Linked DNA regions of Homo sapiens. The protein of the gene in region 2 purifies or fractionates together with the protein of the main gene of each other region. This does not show direct contact. Each region holds a gene or a part of one and is shown on either strand. Other genes may lie near its edges.

Region 1 (3,500 bases), on a different chromosome or scaffold from region 2:
TTACTCAAACAGAAAATTATTAGTATATATCTAATCAACTAATAACACTTTTATTAAGCTTCATATTTTAAAACACTCCCAGTGAAATGAAACACTCAACAGATCTTTATGTAAGATCTAGAATACACTGACAGTCTTCTGTCTTTCCCTGAAAAACACAAGAATATCCTCCGTCTTATCATTTAGCTGAAAGACATTAGCTTATCTGTTCTTTCCTAATTCCTCACTTACATTTGACATTAGAGACATTAGCTTAGTCCAGCTGAAATGCCTCAATTAAAGAACAGAGCCCACTTCTCTTTACAGAGATCTGTGTTGCCATAATAACAATAAAGTTGCTTTGAAAAAAAAATTAAGTGTCAGACATTGTGCCCTCCATAAAAGATGACAAATACATGGGGCCCTGTATTTGTTGACTATTTAAGTTGACTATTTAAGTCCTCCTTTCTCTTCCACTTTCACTCTCTCCTTTTTCTTTCTCATTGCCACCTTTAATTACCACTGGTATGTAGATGACTTGCAAATTTCTCTCTGGACACCAGACTCCTCTCTGCACTGCCTGCCCATCTATACAGTGGTCAACCTGCTCTTTCTAAGACAATTTATACCTAACATAGCCAAAGCAAAGTCACGAGCACCAAACCTTGCCCAACCGGCTCCTCTTATATGTCCCTTCCTAGCAAGAGGCATCATCATCCATCTTTCAAATGGCCCCACTGTCTAATCAATCCACTGCCAAATCCTATCAATTCTCACTCATCTGTCAAATCCATCCGCTTCTCTCAAACTTCACTTCATAATCGAAGCCCAAGCTCCCATCATCTCAGCCAGCCTACCCCAAGGGATTCCCAACCAGTCTCCTTACACACTCTCTTCTCTCCCTTTAGGTAAAGAAGGTGAGAGGAGAAGAACGGTTGGGATACCAAAGCTGAATATAGAACATGATGCTTGGAGACTTCTTTTTGTCATGAAGCAAAATGTAAAGACTGAGAAGCTAGACAACAACTTCCCCTTTGGCAGTTAAAACTTCAATGGAGGTTAGAGAGACTGTGAAGAACAAAGTACTATGGGAGGGGAACATAGGAAAACTATTTAATACTTGAAGAAGGACACCAGTGAAAAGCAAAGTTGGGAAGAAGTAGGAAAGTGCCACAATTGCTTGCAGCCATGTCACAGCCCTTGCTGGAGCCTCCCCCAACCCCACTACCCCACCTACCTGGCCAGCATACTCTACATAGTCCTGTTGCCCAGGTTGGGAGCTGACCCTGGAGCTGGAGCTGGCGGTGCCTTGCTCGGTGCGACACAGGACGATGGCATATTGGTTCAGGTTCCCAGTCCTCTGCACCGTGACACTGACAGACCCTGCCTTCTCACTGACATTGTAGCTGGAAGCACACAAAAAGGCATCTCTTAAACTATGCCCCATGGTTATGAAAAAACAACTTGTTTAATGCCTGTCTCTTCCATTTGGTTCTTGGCATTAGGTAGTCAGAGAAGAGGAAGTTTGGTTCCTCTAAGAATCCAGGCTGTAAATTGAGGGAATGAGTTCACCTGAACAATCAGAGCACGAAACAAACAGGGAAGCTGTGGATGCAGAATGTCGTCTTCCCTGCTTTGCAAGCAAGCTAAGAGTCATTTTGGGAGATGGACAGCACATAGGAGCAATGAACTTCAGATTTCAGGGCACAGAGAAAGGAAAAACAATCTCTCCCTCCTGGGGTTGAGTAATCACAATAGGTCAGTGGGTTCTTAGGGAAGAAAGCTGCTCTGAAGGCAATCAATGACTTAGGTGGGAACTGACTGGACCAGATCTCCAGGAACTGTGTGATGGAGTCAGAGCAGAAGCAGAGGTAAGAAAATGTGAGGTAAGCCTACATAACAGAGATGTTTAGACAAATAGAACTTTATGACAATGGGGGAAGGACATGATTAATTTAGCTTGCTGCTCAGAATCTCTATTGCATTTGTAAAGTAGAAGGCCAACTATTCATATGCTATTGATTCATAATAAGTATCTAGGTTTGGAAAGGCCACAGAAAGTAGGGCATGAGCTGGGCTTTGTTTTTCACCACTGAGGATGGCCCCTAGACCTGGGTGCATGTCTTGTTGCTGTGAGGACAGCAGGGAAAGTGACTCTGAGAGCTCAGTCCTCATTGCCAGCTTTGGGACCGTCTATACCACTTAGTCCATTAAATGTTAGAGGGTTGTCCAGAAAAAGGGATGAATTTTATTGAATTTATTGAATTTTGAAGGTGATACAATTGAGAGGTAAATAACAGCAAAACATTACATATGTAAAAGTTGATTCTAATTTTCCTCTAATTCTCCAAATGTGTGTAAGAGTAGAATAGCCTGAATTTGGGGCACATGAAATCAAGGTTTTAAGTCTTCCTTTTTTCCCCCAAGTTCCAATTTTTATCTGAATTTTCATGAAGTTGATTTCTTGGATAGTGAGTCTCTGAAATGTAGACTTAAAGAATATTTCCCCCACATAAATTATAATCCTAGTTATAATCTAACCTATAAAATCAGCACCATGCTTGCACACTACCTTTAACAATCAGTATCTCTCTGTTTGCCTTTCTAACTCTCCAACAGATTAGAAAAGCATCTTAAAGGGCTGTCCACATTAAGCCATGCATTTAGCCCTACAGATATACATTCCTACCAAACCCAAAGAAGCCAGGGGAGAAAACAGGGTTGGGAACAAGGAGAATACAGATGGAAGGTGAAGATATTGATAGTGTGGGCCAGTGATTATTTTCCAAACTTGAATGCCTATTTTTATTTTTCCTATCAGTTCTACTAGACTCTCTTCTAAAACTTGAAGAGACAGAAGCAAAAACATTTGTCTGAGCAGCAGTAGAGCACATCGTTAAGATCACTGGGCTTACATCCTGGTCTTACTTCTTATTAGCTATGTGACTGTGGACAAGTTACATAAACAAGTTTCTGTCTCTATTACTTTGCCACTGTGGAGACAGGAATGGAATTCATCTCAGAATTCCAAGTATTATATAAGATGATGCATGTCGAGTCCTAGTGCAGCACCTAATACATACAGTACTCAATAAATATTTGGTGAAATTATTACTTTTATCACTGCCATCATCACCATCACCGCCATCAAGAGGTGACTAGAGCTGCCCCCCAGCATCCTTCATCCTGACTCCCTCTGCTTGCCTGATTGATTTCTCAAGAAGGAAAGCACAGTAAAACTTGTACCTGGTATATTTAAAGCTGATGAGTGACCACTGGATATGGAAGACATTGTCGCTGACCACATTGGGTTTACTGTCTTTCACCAGAAACTGAAAACTATCCATCATCTCACGGATCTTCTCCTTGTGCAACACATAACGAATCAACCCCAAGTTCACATCCTCTGTGAGAAAAAAGACTCACTGTGAATTAACCCAGGGATGTAACGACAGCTTCATAGATTACCACACCAACAAACCTAGTTTATTCTTCTAATGTATTACAGACAAAACTTATTT
Region 2 (3,500 bases):
CACGTGAGGGAGCCCTGCAGACATGCAGACTCACTTTGCCGCCGCTCCTGGAGCCCTCACACCAGCAACCCGGGCCTTGCTTAGAAGAGTGGCGGGGGGTCAGGAGGTGGCGGTGAGCCTGCGTAGCTTGAACGGGGTAGTGACATAGTGCTCACAGCTTTCCTTTTTTTTCCTTCTTTCCTTTTTCTTTTTCTTTTTTTAAATCTAGACTAAAATGTAATGATTTTTATACTGAATGCAGAAAACAACAAAGAAACATGATGAGCATAGGGCCAGCTAGTCCCTCTGGGCACTGAGGGTCCACAGTTACTGTTTTTTGTTTGTTTGTTTGTTTGTTTATGAGACAACATCTCGCTCTGTTACCCAGGCTGGAGTGCAGTGGTGCGATCATGGCTCACTGCAGCCTCAAACTCCTGGGCTCCAGGGATCCTCCTGCCTCAGCCTCTTGAATAGCTAGGGCTACAGGCACGTGCCACCACATGTGGCTAACATTTTTATTTTTTGTATAGGCAGGGTTTCACTATGTTGCCCAGGCTGGTCTCAAACTCCTGGGCTCAAGCAAAACCTCCCAAAGTGCTGGGATTGCAGGTGTGAGCCACCACACCTGACCTATTTTCTGTACTTTTAACAGTGCTATCCCACTTTCAATCCCATCCTACAGGACACTTCAGAGGTGCACTGGGCTGCTCTGTTAGAAAGGGTTATGTTGTCCCTTGCTCCATGAGCTTATGGCCAGAAGGCCAAAGCCCACAGGTCAAAGGAGCAAGGGAAAAAGCATGAGGAGATAGTAAGGCCCAGAGGCAGGAGGACACGAGAGAGTGACAAAAAGAAAACCTCCTCTCTCCGGAGCATGGGCAGCCGGGATGGCAGCATCATCTTCCAGAGGAGTCCCTGAAAGGAGGCTGGTTCTTCCATATTATCCTCCATACGGGACTCTGCTGCCCATCGTGGGTCCTGAGGACCCCGAGTGCAGGAGGGAGTATGGGTGGCCTCATCCCCAGAGTGGCATGGCTCTCACATGTTGGCACTTCTTTCCTTTACACAGGGGGCCTCCCCGGAGTTCCAGCAGTGACCCTGACTTTGTGGTGGTAGACGGCGTGCCCGTCATGCTCCCGTCCTATGACGAAGCTGTGAGTGGCGGCTTGAGTGCCTTAGGCCCCGGGTACATGGCCTCTGTGGGCCAGGGCTGCCCCTTACCCGTGGACGACCAGAGCCCCCCAGCATACCCCGGCTCAGGGGACACGGACACAGGCCCAGGGGAGTCAGAAACCTGTGACAGCGTCTCAGGCTCTTCTGAGCTGCTCCAAAGTCTGTATTCACCTCCCAGGTGCCAAGAGAGCACCCACCCTGCTTCGGACAACCCTGACATAATTGCCAGCACGGCAGAGGAGGTGGCATCCACCAGCCCAGGCATCGACATTGCAGATGGTAAGTGCTTGCCCCAGGGCCCAAGCCACACCTGCAAACACCTCCGCACCAGCATCTTCAAGCCAGCTCCTTGCTACGCACGCTCCACCCCCCAGCACAGAGTCGAATCAATCTGTTTACCTCTCACTCAGCTTAAATTGCTTCATGCTCTCTCTCCATGTAGAGGCCTTGGGCAAGGCCAATTATTGTAGGGAATGATCATCATCTTGCAAGTAATGAGCCCATTAATGGAAATTTCAAGAGGCACCAAAAGGCATCGAGCCATCCAGAGTAGAAAGGCAGCAGTGGCCGGTGCTTCATTTTTGTGGTGTCTGTATGATCTGGAATGTATTTCTTCTTTATTCCTTAATTAGATAGGACTCCTGGAAGTGGGGCTTAGGGACAGGATGGCACATACATGCCAGGAAGAAGGATCCAGAGGCACGCACTAGGGCCCAGCAGTGTGTTCTAGCCCCAGAGTTCTGTGTACATAGAAGTTATTTTTACCAGATGTGAAGTAAAAGATGCATGTGTACCTGTCACAAGGAAGGGTAGATTCATGGTAAAATAAGGAAAATGTGTCAGATTGATTAGGTCTCTGTTTCCTACAGAAGGGGAGCCCCAGTGCCACTTTGCAAATGAGAGCACTAATTTGGCTTATATTGAGAGTAAATGGCAGTAATGACGTGGAAACAGAGGTCTCCTGGGCCACCACAGTGTTCCTTTTCTGCAAACCACGCTGCCTTTCTGTACTTGAATTTGCAACTTTCTGGCTTGTGTGACCATTAAGGCCTATGGTTAAAATGTAACATTTTATTTTTTATGAACTGGAAATAAGATCATAATTGTTTCCTGGCAAAGAACAATTGTTACAGAAAGATGTTGTATAGGAGGTTGATTTATTTGGTTATTAACTGGTATGTGGAACTTAACATTTTCTTCTCCTCACTGATTTGAGAAACTGTAGATATTTTAATGAGGCATATAATTCCAGATCGTCATGGTGTTTTCTGGTTATGTTAAGCTAATAACCGTCTCTTCTTTTACAGAGATTCCTCTAATGGAAGAAGATCCCTAATATGGGTCAAGATCCAGATGACTCTCCTGCTCCTTCGGGGAAAGGACCTTGTATCTTGGAGTGAGGTCACAGAAGGATAGAGCCTGGGGGCAAAATGTCTAACTTGTCTACATGGGGACCACAGTTCACATTATGCATCTCAGGCTCCACAGTGAGGCTGACAAACTGCAATGGCAGTGCTTTTAAATGAGATTTGAGGATTCACCAAGACCCATGGGGAACCGGGGCAGCAGGGAAGCCCTCGCGTGGTCTTGGATGAGGGGTGTTAAATGTGTATCGTGCTGTGGAACATGGGACAATTCCACGCACATCCCACCGAATCATCACGCATCCCATTGACTGGCAAGTACTCCCCGCCCCCTCTGAAAGCATGTCACATCATGTAAATTTGCTTCTAACATCTGCTTCAAACTGTCTCTGGACTCCAAATTTGGATGGGTCAGCCTCTGCAGAAAGTTTGTGTTGAGATGCTGGAAGAACAGCAGAGCCTCCTGCACCCTCAGCAAGGGACCAGCTCCCAAAGGAAAGGTCCTTGTGTGACATTTGGAGAATCTTCCTTCATCCAGACAACTCTACTCGAAGCAAGACGAAAGCAGGATGTGGCAGTTGCAGTGAGAAAGGAAAGGAAAGATGGGCAGACTCTGCTTTCTGGAAATTTCTTCACAAAGTAGAGCTCATGAACTCTGTGCTGTCTTCTGGTAACATATCATCAGTGTTTGTATTCATGGTGTGGCACATGGATCCATGGCATTGGGTAAATCTGGTGGTTTTTACACATGGTCAGAATGTGTTCAAATACATCTCATGATGGAGACAGTAACCAAGGTAATGTTTTGTTTCAGCATTTTAAAAAGACTCCACTTAACATTTATCTCAGAATCATGAGCCTCTCTCTAGTTGACAATTGTCATTGTTCCCCCAGCCCCAAATTGAACCATACATTTATTTTCCAAAACAGAAATTGTTTCTGTAAACATATCCGACCTTCAAAAGAAGTGTGAGGTTGGATTTTTCC
Region 3 (3,500 bases), on a different chromosome or scaffold from region 2:
TGCTTTTTAAAATAGTTAAGCACTGAAAAGGGTAAGAAATATGACATTATACTTTCTTTTATAATTACCTGCACACTTACCTTTATTAGTGCTATTTGTTTTTTGTGTGTAGATTCAGATTATTGTCTGGGTTATATCCCTTCAACCTGAAGGAACGTTCTTTGTTATTTCCTCTAATGCAGGCTAATAGCAGTGAATTCTCTGTTTTTTGTAAGTAGGGATATATTTACTATCTTTTTTAATTTTTAGTTTTTATGAATACCTAATAGTTGTACGTTATTTATGGGGTAGAGGTAATATTTTGATACAACCAAACAATGTGTAATGATCAAATCAGGGTAACTGAGATATCCATCACCTTAAACATTTATCATTTCTTTTTGTTAGGAACATTCCAGTTCCACTCTTCTAGTTATTTTGAAATATACAATAAATTATTGTTAACTATAGTCATCCTGTGCTACTGAACATGAAAGACGGTTTTGCTGGGTGTAAGTTTCTTCATGACAATAGTTTTCTTTCATCTCTTTGAATATGTTATCTCACTGTCCTGTGGCCTCCATTCTTTCAGATTAGAAGGTAGCTGTTGATCCTGGCGTTTCCTTGTATATATGATTTTTCTCTTACTGCTTTTAAAATTTCCTTCTTGACTTTGGCTTTCAAAGTTTTTAATAAGATGTGTCTGGATATAAACTTCTTTGTGTCATCTGTATTTCACTGAGTTTCTGTATCTTAGATTAATGATTTTTATTAATTTGGGGGTGTTTTCAACCATTATTTTTCAAATATTTTTTTCTGATCCTTTCTCTCTCTCCTGGTATTTTCAATTACGTATATATTGGTGTGCTTAGTTATGTCTGATATTTCTCTGATGATCTATTTTTTTCATTATTATTTCTCTGTATTCTTCAGGATACATAATCTCTATTGATCTTGCTTCAAGTTTGCTGACTCTTTTTTCTTTTCTCTGTTAAACTTCCCTGGCTTAACTCATTACTCTCTTGGAGTTATCAAAATTCTCTTAATTGCTTACTGCCAATATCTTCATACCACTATGCTTAAACTTATCCATCCTCTGTTCCAAATAGAAATCAGTTCACTTGGGGAGGGCTACCAAGCTGTGTATTTTCATGGCCTCCCTCTACCTCTTGGTTGAATGTGCCTCACTGCTCTGAAGCTGTGGGGAGTGAGAGTGGCCTGCTCCTTTGTAGTAAAACCTCTGCTTACAAGTAGGGCACAGGGTGGGAAAGGTAACTTCTTGCCTTGCCTCTCCTGGTGGAGAAACTGTTCCTTACAAGTAAGCTGGAGTGAGGGCAATTGGGACACAGGATTTTCCAGCTGCCACACCTGAAGACCTTATGTCCTGGAATGAGGAGTTGGTGTAGGAAGGAAACCCCAGACTTCTCAGCTGTTTCTGCGTGGACAGAGCTTCTGTCCTACAAAACTGGGGATGACAAGAAATGCTGGCACCCAATCTTGGGGTAATGCAGTATCTCTGGAGTAGGACCTGGGTAGAGAGGAAACCTCTGGCTTCTTGGCTATATCCATATAGAGTGGAGCTTCCGTCATACTGAGCTAGGGATGGGGAGGTGCTGGGAGAGGGTCTTGGCTTAAATGCCTCAAACTCTCACTATTATTACTGATTAATAAATGTTTCTTCATTTGATGTATTTCCTTAGGACATCTTCTAAAGACTTTCAATAGTTGTTTTTTAAAATAATAATTTTTACTAGTTATGCTTGTTTCGTATGAGAGAGGGTTTACAGAGCTCCTTATGTGGCCAGCCTGGAAATGCCAGAGTACCAGGTTTTTTATTTGAATGTTACCTCCTCTTTAAAAATCGATTTGCTTTGTAGGAAGCATGAAACAGAGCTCCTGAAGTAACTAGAGAAAAGGTGATTTGAAGACCAACCCTCCTTCAAGGTCAGAATTTAGAAATGTTCTTTTATGCCAAAGATGTTTCTCAAATTTACTGTCTGGATAGAAAGGCTAATCCAAAGTGGTATCTACAGTATTCTGAGAGAGAAAAGTTGAAGGGCTTTCAGATTCTCTTAAAACACTTTATGAAAGGTTGATATTTTAATTTTATATCAAGTTAATTCCAAAAATGTGTTTAGTACACACATACACATACACACACCCCCCAAATATATCTGTAAATAAAAAGACAATGTTGGGTGATGATCATTGTCTTGGAATACTACTCCACTCTTTCCATTTCCATAAAATATAAAGAATTTACTGAAAATCCAGATCATTCTTATTAGATTAGGTAATCTAACTATAACATATGCCCCAGCCACTGGAGGACCATTTTCCATTTACTTACTATATAATGTCTATCCTTAAGAAAATTTTGGGTTATAAAATAACATTCAAATTGCACTTAGCAAATGTGGATTGGGAATGATTTAGAAATCAGCACTTGTGCTCATGAAGGAGTGGTTACTCCTGATGTTGGCTTGAGATATAAAAAGGGCTCTGTATTTGCACCAGAGCTATGAGATTTGTTAGCACAGAGATCTTCAGGAATGATAAAAGACACATGCAAGACCTTTTGAAAATTTAAATGACTTCTAGATAATGAATCCTCAAAATTTTTTTGAAAGTCACACAATTTTATAGTGATTAAAGCCTGTTTTGCTGCTAAAAATAGTAAGTGTAACAGCCCAGAGACACTTAAAAACACAACTACATTTTAGCTCTGATGATTCAATATTGTAAGAGGTTTCATAAAAGTATTATAAATATATTAAATAAGTCAGTACAGAGTACTTAATACTAAAATCAGTCCCTTTTTCCTTTTCTTTTTTTTTTTTTTCCCCAAGACGGAGTCTCACTCTGCCGCCCAGGAGTGAGTGCAGTGGTGCGATCTCTACTCACTGCAACCTCTGCCTCCCGGGTTCAAGCAATTCTCCTGCCTCAGCCTCCCGAGTAGCTGGGATGCCCGGCTAATTTTTGTATTTTTAGTAAAGATGAGGTTTCACCATGTTGGCCAGGCTGGTCTTGAATTCCTGACCTCGTGATCCGCCTGCCTTGGCCTCCCAAAGTGCTGGGATTACAGGCATGAGCCACCACGCCCAGCCCTTTTCTTTTGAAAACATGATTGTACCTGAGCAGAAGCTGTGTGATACCCCACTGCACTCCTCTAAGAAGAGTCAAACATCATAGAGCACAGTGTTTGAGTGATCCTGTTAATGACTGTCAATATTTAAATATTATTTTCCCCTTCTAGTTAGTATGCTTGTTTTATAAGAAAAGACATTTCTATAAAGGCCTTTTGAATCACTTCAAGTCATTGTCACAAGGGACAATGGGTAAGACGATTGCTCAAGCCTAGGAGTTCAAGTCCAGCCTGGGCAACAGAGAGGCTTGAATAGCAATACGTTGTCTCTAAAAATTAAAAACAAAAATAACAATGATGGTTTACTGATGTTAAAATTAGAACAGTACAAGGACAGAGTTTTGAAAACCAAATTATTTCAAGAGGATTAGCATTG
Region 4 (3,500 bases), on a different chromosome or scaffold from region 2:
CTCACCATTGATCTTGCTGAACACCCAGTGGGCTCCCTTAGAGCACACAGCCAAGAGCAGACCAGAGTGCTTACATATATCCAGGTGACAGGCTGGCTGGAAATTGGACAGCAAAAAGGGTCTCGGTTGAACATGCTCAGTTCCTCCTTTTGAATAACTCCTTCCTTTGCCTGATTATGAAAGGAGTGAACAAGGCAAGAGTTCTACTCTTGTGGAAGACCCTGGTGGGTCCACAAGGGCCCTCACCTCACTCCTACTTATGCCTATGGTTGAGGCCTAGCTGAATAACATATAGTCTGTTTTAAGCCCACATTTATCTGTTAGCTTTTCAAATATGGTCACAGCAATCATCTTGGGATCACTTCGAAAGGTTGCTGAACCACCAGCCTAATAATTAATTGTCATAATATGTGATATGTCTGTAAAAGTATAGACTCCATTGGAGTGGTTAACCCATCTGTCTGCCTTCCTTCGATAATAGACTTTGAGAGAGCCCTTATCCTCACCCAAGCAGGACTTCTGTGCTCCTGGGGTTTTCATGCAGGGTGTGTCGGTGGTGGAAAAGGCGGGACATGCCATTCTTTTGACAGTCTTTTGGAAATGACCTTGTAGAGACAAGCTGGAGACAGATCCGGCAAACACTGGTGCTTTCAGAACTTCAGTCTCAACAATCACACAGCAGCAAATCTTTAGCACCAAAGAGGAAAATATTTTTGACTTCTTGTTTCTCTGCTTGCGGATATTTTGGCTCCAATACAAATGGATACTTCTAGTACTTGAGGTGCATGAGCATGTCTATCACAGGAAATGGTTGCTAACATACAGACTGTGGTAAAACTGTGAACCCTCATGGTTTACTCCTCACAAGTTTGTATGAAGGCCACATTTTGATACCAAAGAATGTTAAATAAAACAAGCATGTTTTGTGAACACAAACAAAAAAAGGAAATTTAACTATCTCATCTATACTTATATTTATACACATTTTTTTCTTAAGACAAACAGGAACATAAAATACCTAAACAATAAATAAGCCTAAGACTAAACTATGAAAGATACTATTATCTTGACTTTATTGTTTTCATTTTGAGAAATTAAACAAAGGGAAAATTACAAAGAATAATATGACTAACACCCTATGAGCCATCACCCAAAATGAACAGATGTTAACATTTTACCATGTTTGCCTTTTTTTAAAAAAAATAAAAGAAACTGGACAATAAAAATGAAGTTGAAGTCTCCTTTGTTCTTATCCTCAAACCCTGTCCTTTCATTTACTCCTCTAGAGGCTGCTGCTATTGTGACTTCAGTGCATCCTTCAGCCATTTTAAAATGCAGAATACATATGTGCCAAGGGATAATATATAGCACTGTTTTATGCTTTAAAAATGTATGTGTGTACTGTTGGTGGGAGTGTAAATTAGTAAAGGTATTATGGAAGACAGTATGGAGGTTCCTCAAAAAATTAAAAATAGAACTACCATACAGTGCAGTAATCCCACCACTAGGTATTTATCCAAACGAAAGGAAATCGGTATACTAAAGGGTTACCTGCACCTCCATGTTTATTGCAACACTATTTATAATAGTCAAGATATGGAATCAACCTAAGTGTCCATCAATAGATGAATGGATAAAGAAAATGTGATATATAGACACAATGGAATACTATTCATCCACAAAAAAGAGTTTGTTGGTAAAGCCATCTAGGCCTAGAGTTTTCTTTGTGGGAAGGTTTGAAATTATTGATTTAATTTCCTGAGCAGGTATAGGACCATTTAGATCTTCTATTTCTCCCTTTGTCAGTTTTGATAACTTGTATTTTATTAGGAATTTGTGTAGTACATGTGAACTTTTGTTTTGTATTATCTTTTAAATGTTTGTAGCATCTGTAGTAATATTGCCTGTTTATTCCTGATATTGGCAATTCATGCTTTTCATTTTTTCCCAAGATACGTTTTGCTAGTGTTTAATTGATTTTATTAGTCTTTTTTTTTTTTTTTTTTTAGATGGAGTCTTGCTCTGTCACCCAGGCTGGAGTGCAGTGGTGCGATCTTGGCTCACTGCAACCTCTGCCTCTGGAGTTCAAGCAATTCTCCTGCCTCAGCCTCCTGAGTAGCTGGGATTACAGGTGCATGCCACCATGCCCAGCTAATTTTTTGTATTTTTAGTAGAGACAGAGTTTCACCATGTTGGCCAGGCTGGTCTGGAACTCCTGACCTCATGATCCGCCCGCCTTGGCCTCCCAAAGTGCTGGGATTACAGGCGTGAGTCACCGCACCTGGCCTGATTTTATTGGTCTTTTCAAACAACAAACTTTTGGCCTTGTAGATCCTATCTGTAGTATGTTTGTTTTCTATTTCATTAACTTCTTTTATCTTTATTATTTCCCTCCTTTTATTTTCTTTGGGCTTAATTTGTTATTTTTTTTATAACCTTTTGAATAACAGATATTCAACATTTTCATTTCTAATACGGACTATGAATTATCCAAGCACCAATGTAAAAAACATGTAGTCTGAAGTTGTTGGGCTCAATGCTCTGTATATCATTTAGGTCAAGTTTGTTAACTATGGTGTTCAAATCTTTTATATCTTTATGGACATTTTTGTTTGTTTGCTTGTTCTATCAGTTACTGAGAGAGGTATGTTAAAAATCTCTTCTATGACTGGATAATTATTTTGAAAACTCCCTCTTTAATTCTAATAGTGCTTTCCTCCTTTAAATCTACTTTATCTGATGTATAGATAGCTCAGTTTTTAGCTGTCATTGTTGCTGCTGTTAGTACCTGCATAATATATTTTTTCCATCCATCTGTCAACATGTGTGAGACTCTTATGCAATAGAAAGAAGTATAAAACAGGGTATGATAGGCAGGATAATGGTTCCTCAAAATGTCAACATCCTAATCTCCCAGAACCTATGAATACATCACCTTCCATGCCATAAGGGACTCTGCAGGTATGATTATAGGTAAGACCTGTAAGATGTGAGGATTATCTCAGATTTATCTGGATGGGCCCGATCTAATGACATGAGTTCATAAATGCAAGGAGTACTTCTTGATTATGGTCAGAGGGAGATGTGGCTGCAGAAGAAGGGTCAGAGAGGTGGCAACTTTTCCTTCTAATCAATAGGGAGACATAAGAGGAATTTAAATATATTTTTTAAAGAGTATATCATATAGTTCACATATGATCAAATTCACCCATTTTTAGTGTAAAATTCTATGGTTTTTAGTATGATATATTCACAAAGTTGTATAACCATCACTGTAACATATTTTAGAACATTTTTATCACCCCAGAAAGAAACCCTGCACCATTGGCAGTTAATCCCCATTTACTCCCACACCCTCCAGCCCTAGGCAACCCTTAACCCACTTTGTGCTCTGGATTTACCTATTCTGGACATTTTATATAAATAGGATCAGACAATATGTGGCCTTTCGTGTCTGGCTTCTTTCACTTGGCATAATGTTCTCAAGGTTCATTCATTTT

The links.
Region 1: the proteins of SUSD4 (region 2) and FRAS1 purify together in Homo sapiens (affinity purification with mass spectrometry; 3 studies listed by BioGRID and IntAct, with this or other methods). This does not show direct contact.
Region 3: the proteins of SUSD4 (region 2) and CNTNAP3 purify together in Homo sapiens (affinity purification with mass spectrometry; 3 studies listed by BioGRID and IntAct, with this or other methods). This does not show direct contact.
Region 4: the proteins of SUSD4 (region 2) and ARSB purify together in Homo sapiens (affinity purification with mass spectrometry; 3 studies listed by BioGRID and IntAct, with this or other methods). This does not show direct contact.

Annotation. Positions count from the first base shown.
Region 1 is NC_000004.12:78,473,323-78,476,822, reverse strand, and holds part of FRAS1 (extracellular matrix organizing protein FRAS1 isoform 1 precursor), read right to left. Parts: intron 3,386-3,500; coding exon 3,226-3,385; intron 1,386-3,225; coding exon 1,217-1,385; intron 1-1,216. UniProt on the Homo sapiens protein: Involved in extracellular matrix organization. Required for the regulation of epidermal-basement membrane adhesion responsible for proper organogenesis during embryonic development. Involved in brain organization and function.
Region 2 is NC_000001.11:223,221,177-223,224,676, reverse strand, and holds part of SUSD4 (sushi domain-containing protein 4 isoform a precursor), read left to right. Parts: intron 1-1,045; coding exon 1,046-1,428; intron 1,429-2,456; coding exon 2,457-2,485; 3' UTR 2,486-3,500. UniProt on the Homo sapiens protein: Acts as a complement inhibitor by disrupting the formation of the classical C3 convertase.
Region 3 is NC_000009.12:39,096,168-39,099,667, forward strand, and holds part of CNTNAP3 (contactin-associated protein-like 3 isoform 1 precursor), read right to left. Parts: intron 1-3,500.
Region 4 is NC_000005.10:78,782,811-78,786,310, forward strand, and holds part of ARSB (arylsulfatase B isoform 1 precursor), read right to left. Parts: intron 688-3,500; exon of another isoform or gene 507-687; intron 1-506. UniProt on the Homo sapiens protein: Removes sulfate groups from chondroitin-4-sulfate (C4S) and regulates its degradation. Involved in the regulation of cell adhesion, cell migration and invasion in colonic epithelium.